Regions from separate parts of the Homo sapiens genome. Here region 1 is reported to be linked to region 2. The links are microRNA targets in miRTarBase. Many come from high-throughput screens and were not tested one by one. Region 2 holds a microRNA gene; the other region holds the end of a gene's coding sequence.

Region 1 (5,378 bases), not on the chromosome of region 2:
AAGCTGTCAGAAAATGCCTCTTCTCTAGAGCTTCAACTGCTATTGGGACATGGTTCCCTGTCCTTCCTTAAGAGAATTTTCAGTCACTTCTAACTATTTATCTATTGGATTTTGGGAAGATATATTGATTTTTACTTTAATGACCTAGAATAGTATATCTTCAAATCAAAGAAGGCATGTTTTTTGATTTAACAACCTTTTGCCATTATCAAATTATTCTTGCTTTATAAGAGATGTATTTTAATTCTGTAGTTACTGATTATACAAGAAATAATTGCTACTTGATTAGACTTGGCGTATGATGGTCAGACTCAGTGTATTATGGTATCAGGTGATTTGCAAAGCAAATGATACAGTTTTAGTAAGTTCAGAGAGAATACTAACATAAGGATATTTTCTTTAAAAAAGAATAACTTTCCAGAGCATAGAGTATTTAGTGTTTTTAAATGATGGATACTGCTCTGTATGTATTTGTTTCAAAACATCTTATTTTATCTTTGCAGGAGCGATTGGTTACATGGGAACAAGTGCCTTTGTCCGAAAAATCTATACTAATGTGAAAATTGACTAGAGACCCAAGAAAACCTGGAACTTTGGATCAATTTCTTTTTCATAGGGGTGGAACTTGCACAGCAAAAACAAACAAACGCAAGAAGAGATTTGGGCTTTAACACACTGGGTACTTTGTGGGTCTCTCTTTCGTCGGTGGCTTAAAGTAACATCTATTTCCATTGATCCTAGGTTCTTCCTGACTGCTTTCTCCAACTGTTCACAGCAAATGCTTGGATTTTATGCAGTAGGCATTACTACAGTACATGGCTAATCTTCCCAAAAACTAGCTCATTAAAGATGAAATAGACCAGCTCTCTTCAGTGAAGAGGACAAATAGTTTATTTAAAGCATTTGTTCCAATAAAATAAATAGAGGGAAACTTGGATGCTAAAATTACATGAATAGGAATCTTCCTGGCACTTAGTGTTTCTATGTTATTGAAAAATGATGTTCCAGAAAGATTACTTTTTTCCTCTTATTTTTACTGCCATTGTCGACCTATTGTGGGACATTTTTATATATTGAATCTGGGTTCTTTTTTGACTTTTTTTTTTTCCCAATCCAACAGCATCCTTTTTTTTAAAAGAGAGAATTAGAAAATATTAAATCCTGCATGTAATATATCTGCTGTCATCTTAGTTGGACCAACTTCCCATTTATTTATCTTAAAACTATACAGTTACATCTTAATTCCATCCAAAGAAGATACAGTTTGAAGACAGAAGTGTACTCTCTACAATGCAATTTACTGTACAGTTAGAAAGCAAAGTGTTAAATGGAGAAGATACTTGTTTTTATTAAACATTTTGAGATTTAGATAAACTACATTTTAACTGAATGTCTAAAGTGATTATCTTTTTTCCCCCCAAGTTAGTCTTAAATCTTTTGGGTTTGAATGAAGGTTTTACATAAGAAATTATTAAAAACAAGGGGGGTGGGTAATAAATGTATATAACATTAAATAATGTAACGTAGGTGTAGATTCCCAAATGCATTTGGATGTACAGATCGACTACAGAGTACTTTTTTCTTATGATGATTGGTGTAGAAATGTGTGATTTGGGTGGGCTTTTACATCTTGCCTACCATTGCATGAAACATTGGGGTTTCTTCAAAATGTGTGTGTCATACTTCTTTTGGGAGGGGGGTTGTTTTCTTCTGTTTATTTTCTGAGACTCCTACAGGAGCCAAATTTGTAATTTAGAGACACTTAATTTTGTTAATCCTGTCTGGGACACTTAAGTAACATCTAAAGCATTATTGCTTTAGAATGTTCAAATAAAATTTCCTGACCAAATTGTTTTGTGGAAATAGATGTGTTTGCAATTTGAAGATATCTTTCTGTCCAGAAGGCAAAATTACCGAATGCCATTTTTAAAAGTATGCTATAAACTATGCTACTCTCATACAGGGGACCCGTATTTTAAAATCTCCAGACTTGCTTACATCTAGATTATCCAGCACAATCATAAAGTGAATGACAAACCCTTTGAATGAAATTGTGGCACAAAATCTGTTCAGGTTGGTGTACCGTGTAAAGTGGGGATGGGGTAAAAGTGGTTAACGTACTGTTGGATCAACAAATAAAGGTTACAGTTTTGTAAGAGAAGTGATTTGAATACATTTTTCTGGAACTATTCATAATATGAAGTTTTCCTAGAACCACTGAGTTTCTAGTTTAATAGTTTGCTATGCAAATGACCACCTAAAACAATACTTTATATTGTTATTTTTAGAAAGACTCAAAACACCTGTATTTAAACCTTAATATGAAAATCATGCAATTAATAGTTACACAAGATGTTTTCATTACAAAATATGTACCTATCTATTGATGGACTCTACATCCTATATTGTGACATGTAAGTCCTTTAAAAGGTGAAAAGTATGATTTCTTACCACTTAAGTATGATTGATATGATCCAACAAATTTGATCAGAAGCTGTAGGTAAATCCTCTTCTGAAGCCAAAATGGTATATTAAATATAATTTATTGGTACTTCCATTTTCTCTTCCTTCTTACTTGCCTTTAAGATCTTATAAAAAAGAAACTAAAAGTTAATATTTAGTTGCCTATATTATGTAACCTTTTAACTATATATAAAGTACTTTTTTGGTTTCTTTCTCACCACTTTTATTCAAAAGTACTTTTAACATACCAATACATAGTCTGTCTGATGGGAGTATAAATTGGACAGTAAGGTTTTGTCTTAATAAAATGAAATTTGTTTCTCATGATATGAATCTTGCAGGTAAGATGTAGGGTTTATTGAAAATGTGTGGGTTAAATGCTTTCAGGTACACCAATTCTTTCTACTAAATTGAGCTCTATTTGAAGTTCTTTGGAATCTGTGGTGAAAAATAATTTTCTGATTTCCAAATACATTAAGAGCATTAAATGAATATTAATCACCTTTAAAGTCTTTTAGAAAAGGACTTGTATTGGTTTTTGGCTGCATAGAGGGGTTGAATAAGTGTATGTATGTGTGTGCGTGTGTGTGTGTCTTCTTAAAGAAGATGTAATTCACAAATAGTTTAGCTCCCTAGCGCTCAGTTGTAGAATAGAAAATAGAACATTATTCAAGTTAATTGAAAGGTGAGGTTTTTATACCCCCACTAATGCTGTGTATCTGTCTTTCGTTTGTTAACATTATTTGCTTAATTTCTTTCAACTCACACTTTGGATAATACTATCAAAAACTAAGGCTAAACATTCCTTGTGTATCTTTAAGCATGCTTCTCCTGAAATTTAACTACATTAGTAGTTGACATTTGTATACATATATCCTAATACAAGAGTAGGATAAGGTGGAAATGTAATGGCCTGAGGGATGGTGAAGCATTCTTTTAGTATTTTTCATCATGTTGGGCTCCTAGATTGTACTGGGGTTGCCCATAAATCAAACCCCATACTCTTAGAATTCATTATATTATGGTGATATCCGAACCTAGTGAATGGTATGCTTGGGTGTTTTCCATTGAGAGTGGATGGACCTCTTTATAAAGTTGGTTGCTGCAAAATCCAGTTCTTCCAAAAGCCACTTTATTTAGGGTTTATTCACAAGTCATATCCATTTTGGTACAGTGTTTGTTTCCTAATATTTATTAACCACCTTATACCAAATGTCTTGCAAAGAAATGTTATTAAAACCTTGAATTTTTACAAATGTAAAAAACAAAAAGTGTATTAATGTATTTGTTCAGGAAAAGCTACATACCGAAGGGCTTTTGTATATGAATTCTGTGGTGGGGAGACCCATTTGTAATCTATATGGCAGTTCCATCTGGGTTTTAAGTTTAGATTTCACCGTGTCTTAGTGCTTCATTCTATTGGTTTATTGGAACATGTAATAAATAGGAGTAGTGATGTATTAAAACACAAGTATTCATTAATGTTTTATATCTTCACTAAAATTCTATAGTTATGAAACTATCAATCAAGGTGTTATATTTCAGTCAGAAGTGAAAATTTATGAAGAGTATTTGGAAGTGTGTACAGAAATAAACTAGACTTACAGGTAGGCTAGATCAGAACGTTAACATATGAACCTGCAGAAATCTGGTAAGACTTAAATTCAGTGTGAGGAATAACTCTAGTTCTCTCCTATGAGCATTTCCTAAAAGCCATCTGATTTGGCATTCTTACTGGAGCTGCAGACAGAAATCTACAAAGACAAAAGTAAACAAAATTAAGTTATTATTCCACTGTTAGGAATGGAAATAAACTTGTGAAGTCTGTTTATTTTGAAGTATTGGTGAACTAGGCTTGCTAATTGATAACTGCAGCAGTTTGTGTTTACTCCAGTTCATCAGCTTAGGTCATTTGAAAGATATAAGAGCTTAAGGCAAGAAAGAAATAACATGGAATTCTATTTGAAGGACAACAGAACATTCTTGGAAAAGCAGCTCCAGTTGGTTTTTCAACTGTCAAACTTGAATGTGTAAGTCCCCACAGAGCATGGACAGTCGGTGCAGAGTTCCAAGGAAACAATTATTGCCTGATGACCACTTCCATTTTGTATACACTCTTTGGTTCGTATAGGCCATATTCCAACTGGCTTTTTAGTAATAGAAATCCAGTATATAATGTATCAAATACAATTGAGGTTCTAACCTAGTGTGTTAATTTATCTGAATTTGGATTTTTAAAAAGTAATAAAAAGTTAAATGTACTTCCTTTGGATTCCTTATTTCTTTCCTTTTTGAAACATGAACCAAGCATAAGGGATAACCCATTATTGACAGGCAAATGAATAACTTAGTAATAGTTTTCCACAATTAAAGCAGGGGTCTGCAGACTTTTTCTGTGAAGGTCTAGATAGTAAATACTTTCAGCTTTGAGGGCTATGCAGTCTCTGTTGAAACTATCGTTGTAGCACCAAAGCAGCCATAGTAGACTACATAAACTAATGAGCATGGCTATGTTCCAGTATAACTTCACAAAAATGGCCCACAGGCCATAGTCCGCTAACCCCTGGAATGATGTATTTAAAATTTAAGGTTTAAATTTGTATTTCAAAAGTGAACTGTAATATACAGTAAAGTTGAGAGAATGGTCCAGTGAATAAGATTGGTCTTTCTTAAGAATGATTTTTCTTTTATTGCCATTCTTTTGACTTTTTTGTATACCTATTCTGACTCTTACACTCAGACTTTACCATCTATTTGCCTGCCATCCTCTGATTGATGATTCTTTGCATTTGTTTAGCATTTACTACTTTTTCAAAGCAGTTTCACTTGTTCCTTCACAACCATCCTGTGAAGCTGGTAGAGTAGATAGCTGTGTTTTATGGATAAGAAACCACAGCTAAAGGTGCTCTTATGTT
Region 2 (5,378 bases):
CACAGTCTAGGGCACAAAGAAGGTAGACATTAACATTAGGCAATTTCAGAGAACTGTAAGCTAGGAAGAAAACAGTAACGGGGCAACTGGTAGAATGTGATAGGGAAGAGGCAAGGGGAGCTGCTTTTATAGGGTTATCAGGGATGACCTTGCTGAACAAGAGCCATTCCATCCCCTTGGGAATTGTGAACCCCTGGGAAAGGAAAATGCAAAGGATGTGGGCCTTTAAGGAAGGAAGGGCCAGAGCCTGGACAGGAGGCAGCCGAGGGCAGAGCAGGGCGGCCCAGGACCCAGCTCCGGAAGGAGGGGCATGTGCAAGGCCAGAATGAAGGATGAAAACACGTGGGGGATAGGCTGTGGCTCCAAAAGAAGAGGGGGGCTGCCACTCTGAGGGCCTGGGGGGTCCTCGGATCATTTTGGTACCAAGCCCAAGGGAAGGGGCCTGCAGAGGTGCCCTGGGCAGCGGAGTTAAACAGCTGGACTCTGCACTTGGAAATGCTCTCCCTGGCAGAGGGAGGGGCACTGGAGGGAGACCCAAGTGCCACAGGCTGGAGGGACCTAGCCTGTGGGGCGGCCTCTCCAGCAGGGCTGTGGCCCAGGGGCTGGGGAAGAGGGGTGCTGAGGGAGAGTGGGAGCAGGCAGCCCAGAGGGATGGTGCCAGGGATCCCCACTCCCATGCTAGGCATGGAGAGGAGCGGTCCCGAGGAGGAGGACAAGGGGGAGGGCAGGCACAGGCTGTGACTTCCAAGGCAGCGACGTCTCAACTAGGGGATGACGGGAGCCCAGCTCAGGAAGATCTCCCGAGCCCAGGAGCTCACTGATCAACAATGAGTGATAAAGGACAGCCTTAGCTCATTCTTTGGGGTCACTCCTGAGGTGCTCCTTGCCTTCAGCCCTGGACCCTGGGCATGGGCAGCATGTTCTGGAGTCACTAAGTCTCCAGGTCAGCTGCAAACAGGCCTCTGGTCATCTTCCTGTAGTCTGGGCAGGCCAGGGGTGCAAATATGACATAAGCATCGGGTAGCTGAGAGCCAGCCCAGCCTGGGGGATGTGCCAACCGGAAGCAAGGGCATGGCGGGTGCTCCCGCTGACACTGGAATTGGGGATGCCATTCTGTCACACTTCCAAAGCCCCCCAGAACAGAGTGGAGCTGGAAAATTAACAGGCCAAGTGACACAGGTCCTACACAAAGTCCACAGGGTCAACCAGCGCAGAGCCAGCTGCTGCCTGGAGTTGACAGCAAAGAGGAAGGCATCCAAGGTGGGATTCGATATCGGAAAGAGGTTGACTGTATAATATTCATCATATAGAAAGTGAACACCTCACAGGCAACCTATTTCAGGTACCACTGAGCAGCACTGACTCCAGGGAGGAGGCTTCTTCCACAGGGAAGGGCCCTGCCACCCACCCGCCTCCAGGATGGAGGCCAGCACAGGGCTGCAGGTGGAAGTCAAGCGCGTGCTCGGCCACCAGCCATGCCTCTGGGGGCCCACAGGGCGCGCAACCGGACCTCCCCGACATCAGCAGGTGCAGGAATCATGCAGGTGGGATCTGATACTGAAGAGAGGCCGCTCGTGTCTTGTGTGTCATGATTTCTGTGAATGCAACACAGGCCACCTCTCCTCAGGCACCACAAGGAGCAGCACACGCACACGGCCACCCAAGGCACCAGCTCCCACCCAGGGTCTCACAGCACTGAGATGAGCAGAAGGCAGCCCAGGTGCAGGGAATGCATGCAGCCGCCCCCAACATCCTGGCGAGGGGTGGGTGGCCTTCCAGCAGGATGCCTTCCAGCGGGACTAGCTCCCCCGTGTCCTCTGCCTCGATGACACTGGCCATGAAAAACAGACTGAGCCCCGTCACCATTGCTCATCAGCTTCATGACCGCCCCCCACCACAGTGCACAACCCTAGCATCTTCCCCAAAGTCCACATGGCCCCCCGAAAGCTCTCCCAAAATGATTCAATGGCGGGGGTCAGGGGAAAGGATGACAAATGTCACACCAGCCCATGCATTCACGTACCCTGGAAAGTCCCGCCTCAGGCGTGGCGCCCGCACACCACCGGGCGGTAGCGGTACTGAAAACAGGCCATCTGTGTTATATTCGTCATTAATAAAAGCGAACTCATCACAGACAACCTCTTCTCAGGTACCCAGAGTGCCATCGGCTCAAGAACGTGGCTGCCGCGTCCCGTGGTGCCAGCGCTGCCCCCGGGAAGCAGTCCTGAGGACGGATGGGACATCAAAGGTGAGAAGACACAGAGACAGGAAAGAGACCCCTGCCCGGCCCACTCTCGGTGACCAGGCCCCACTGAGGCAGCGACTCCAAAGCACCCGTCCTGCTCCTACCCTCAAAAGGGCTTCATCTCCAACGGGTCCTCCAAGGTGAGATTTGATACTGAGAAAAGATCAACCATGTATTATTCGAAGTCAATAAAGCGAATATAACACGGTCGATCTCCCTTCAAGTACCAGGAAAGGCGCTGAGCTGAAGCGCGATCGGCTCCCCGGCCCGCAGGCCCCACAGGCTGCAGCGGATACGGACGGCTAGTGGACCAGGTGAAGTACATTAGAAACAATTACTTTCCAACTGGTCGACCATCCATCCCCGTACCCCAGAATGGTGCTGATGCCGGCGTCCTTCCCCGAGGTGCCCCAGCCTCCAAGACGGCCTCCCTGGTGGAATTTGATACCGAAAAGGGGTTCACCGAGCAACATTCGTCGTCCAGATGCAAAGTTGCTCGGGTAACCTCTCCCCGAGTACCATGGAGAGGCTCAGATGCTCGGACTAAGGTGAATGCTTGCAGGCGGCTGTGCTTGCAGAAGACCCTCCCCCAAGGGCAGCACAAGGTCTGGGCATTCAGAGCCCAGAGCCTCACACTCTCCAAGGACGTTCCCAATCACCAAGTCCAACGATTCCAACCCCTTCCAGAATGAATCTAGAGACTCTTCCCAGAAGTTGAGTGCAAGACCCAGGTAGGATCTTATACTGAAAAGACGGCAACCTTCCTTGGGCACCTTGCTAAAGATGAAAATGAAACCCTGCTCGCACCCGCTTTTCATTCCCAGACCCTGAGAGGGGGTGACCCTGTAGGGACCCCTGCACAAGCACAGAGCCTCCCTCCCAGCAGAGGATTCCTTTGGCGGGAGCTCAACGGGGCACAACGCTGACCCCAGACCTGCGGTCTCACCAGCACCATCTCCAGCCCACAGAGGCATCACCCCAGGATCCCTCAAAGAGTAACTTCACAGTTATCAACAGCTGGCTGACCATCTGATTAGCCTCATAAAGCAAGTGAGACATTCAAAATAAGGGACTGGGGGGATAAATGCAGCAGAAGAAAGCAGGTGAGTCACAGATGTCTTCTCTTCACAAGGGTCAGGGCAGCCCTGACCTCAGAACCCAACCTTCCCCAGACTCAGAGAACACCCAGAAGGTGCCTCCTGGAGCGGGCAGCCAGCAAGCATCGGGCCAGACGATGGATGCCACAAGCAGAGTCCAGATTCTGTGCCCACCACCCATTCTGTGAACTTTGGAGTGGGACCGACAGCAGAATCCTTTCCCTGACGTTGGCATGAGCTCAGAGAGCCCTCTGCGCCTTGCTACAAGTGGAGCAAGAGGCCAGCCATGCGAGGCCTGCTGTAAAGAAAGAAAAGATGTCACAGACGACTTCCCTTCAGGAGCCATGGGCACTGACCTGCATCAGAGCCTCCTTCCTGGGGCAGGCATCACCTCCCAAGGTGGTCCCGGAACGCACCGGAGTCAGCAGGAGTGGAACAGATGACATGCACCGTGGGTACAATCGGGCCTGTCCCATGGGCGGCCCTCAGGCACCTGCCCTGGAGAGGGCTCCGGCTGCAGGCCGCCTCCTGAGGGTGCTGTTGCTTCTGGAAATTCTCCAGGTAGGGTTTGATCTGAAAAGAAAGCCATGTGCAATGCTGGTCACCAACAAAGCAGGCCAGCAAACAACGAGCTCTTTCCACAGCCCCAGCAAGGTTTTTGACCTTGGAAACATCAACTCCAGAATGACTTTCAGCCTCTATGACCAAATGACATTCGGCACCAACGAAGGGCACGTCCTTGGGGCCAGCATGGAACCATGTAAGGTATCAACAGCAGAGTCTGAGGAAGGACTGAACCCCAGAATGTTCCTGGATGCCTGTGTGTTCATCAATAGCCTTGGAAGTGTGAAAGGAAAGTTATCTCGGGCCCCTAAAATCACTAAGGAAAACTCAAGCTGGAAGCTGCTCAGGATAAACCTGCCTCTCATTCCATTCAAAGTCATCCCTCTGCTCACTGAGACAGATGCGTATCTGATTTGCCTCCTTTGGAAAGGCTCATGAGAAACGCGAAAGAATGTAATCATTTGTGTATCACCTGTCTGTGACCTGGAAGCTCCCTCCTTCCTGCCTTCGCTTCAAGTTGTCCCACCTTTGCAGACAAAACCAATGTACTTCTTACATGTGCTGAATGATGTCTCATGTCTCCCTAAAATGTATAAAGCCAAGCTGTGCCTTGACCACAGTACTTCCTGAAGCTGTGTTACGGGTGTATCCTCAACCTTGTCAAAATAAACTTTCTAAATTAACTAAGAGCTGTCTCAGATTTTCTGAGTTCACAGAAGCAACTGTCCTGAAAGACCAGACCCCACTGACCGTAGAACTTCTGCTTCCCTCCGGAGTCAGCGTCTCACCCAGAACCCTCCGTGGGGATGGAGGGAGACCAGGTGATGCCTGTCACTTACGTATGAATGCTCTGGGGACAACATGCACCCAGATCCCCGGGAGGACGCCTTACCAGTGTGTCACGCCTGAAGTCAGCACACCTTTCCGGGAAGCTCTCGGGAAGGTTTGGGGCAGCAAGAAAAGATCAACTGCATAAAGGGGGAGACTGTATCCCATTTTTTGACCCTAGGTTCCTACTGACCCCACCAACTCCACTGTAAACACGCACAAATGTAACCACCTTCACAAGAATTGTACCAACACTGATATTCATAGAAACGTGTTTTTCAGAGCCAATGCCATTATACTAATCCAATTCCCTGTTTAGCTTTCCTGACCGCGCTGTTGAGCTGTTTTCATTTCTCTTATTTCCCTTGTTATTTTCCCCAAATCATTTTCATTAGGATCAATTTTTTCCATTTAAAAATCTGCATGAAGATTTGATTCCTCAATGTGTTCTTGTCTACATCAAATATCACTGTTTATCACCGCCGCCACCGTGAATTTCCTTCCATGGCTGCCACGTCGGCAGCTTGCTATTTCCCCAGGTCAAATGTCACAGCTGAAATGTTGTCAAGAAAATTGGATTCCTCTGCCAATTTGTAGTCAACTGAACACATTTAGCACTGTGCCGTTTCAGCTGTTTTTAGTTT

Evidence for each region. Region 2 holds the annotated microRNA hsa-miR-412-5p (UGGUCGACCAGUUGGAAAGUAAU, at 2,579-2,601, opposite strand). A microRNA usually pairs through its seed, bases 2 to 8, with sites in the 3' UTR of a target mRNA and lowers its output. Matches are read on the target gene's strand: a 7mer-m8 pairs with bases 2 to 8, a 7mer-A1 pairs with bases 2 to 7 and ends in A, and an 8mer does both.
Region 1: miRTarBase lists TM9SF3 as a target of hsa-miR-412-5p. Seed matches in the 3' UTR shown: 7mer-m8 at 1,045-1,051.

What each region holds. Positions count from the first base shown.
Region 1 is chr10:96,517,456-96,522,833 of GRCh38, reverse strand. TM9SF3 (transmembrane 9 superfamily member 3) reads left to right here. Exons shown (of 15, transcript NM_020123.4): 15 at 504-4,724. The coding sequence ends at 571. Among named protein-coding and RNA genes, the nearest start is that of TLL2, 6.2 kb to the right of the region's middle.
Region 2 is chr14:101,062,688-101,068,065 of GRCh38, reverse strand. MIR412 (microRNA 412) reads right to left here and starts at 2,619; the gene lies at 2,529-2,619. MIR541 (microRNA 541) reads right to left here and starts at 3,571; the gene lies at 3,488-3,571. MIR409 (microRNA 409) reads right to left here and starts at 2,766; the gene lies at 2,688-2,766. MIR369 (microRNA 369) reads right to left here and starts at 2,468; the gene lies at 2,399-2,468. It also overlaps MIR410 and MIR656.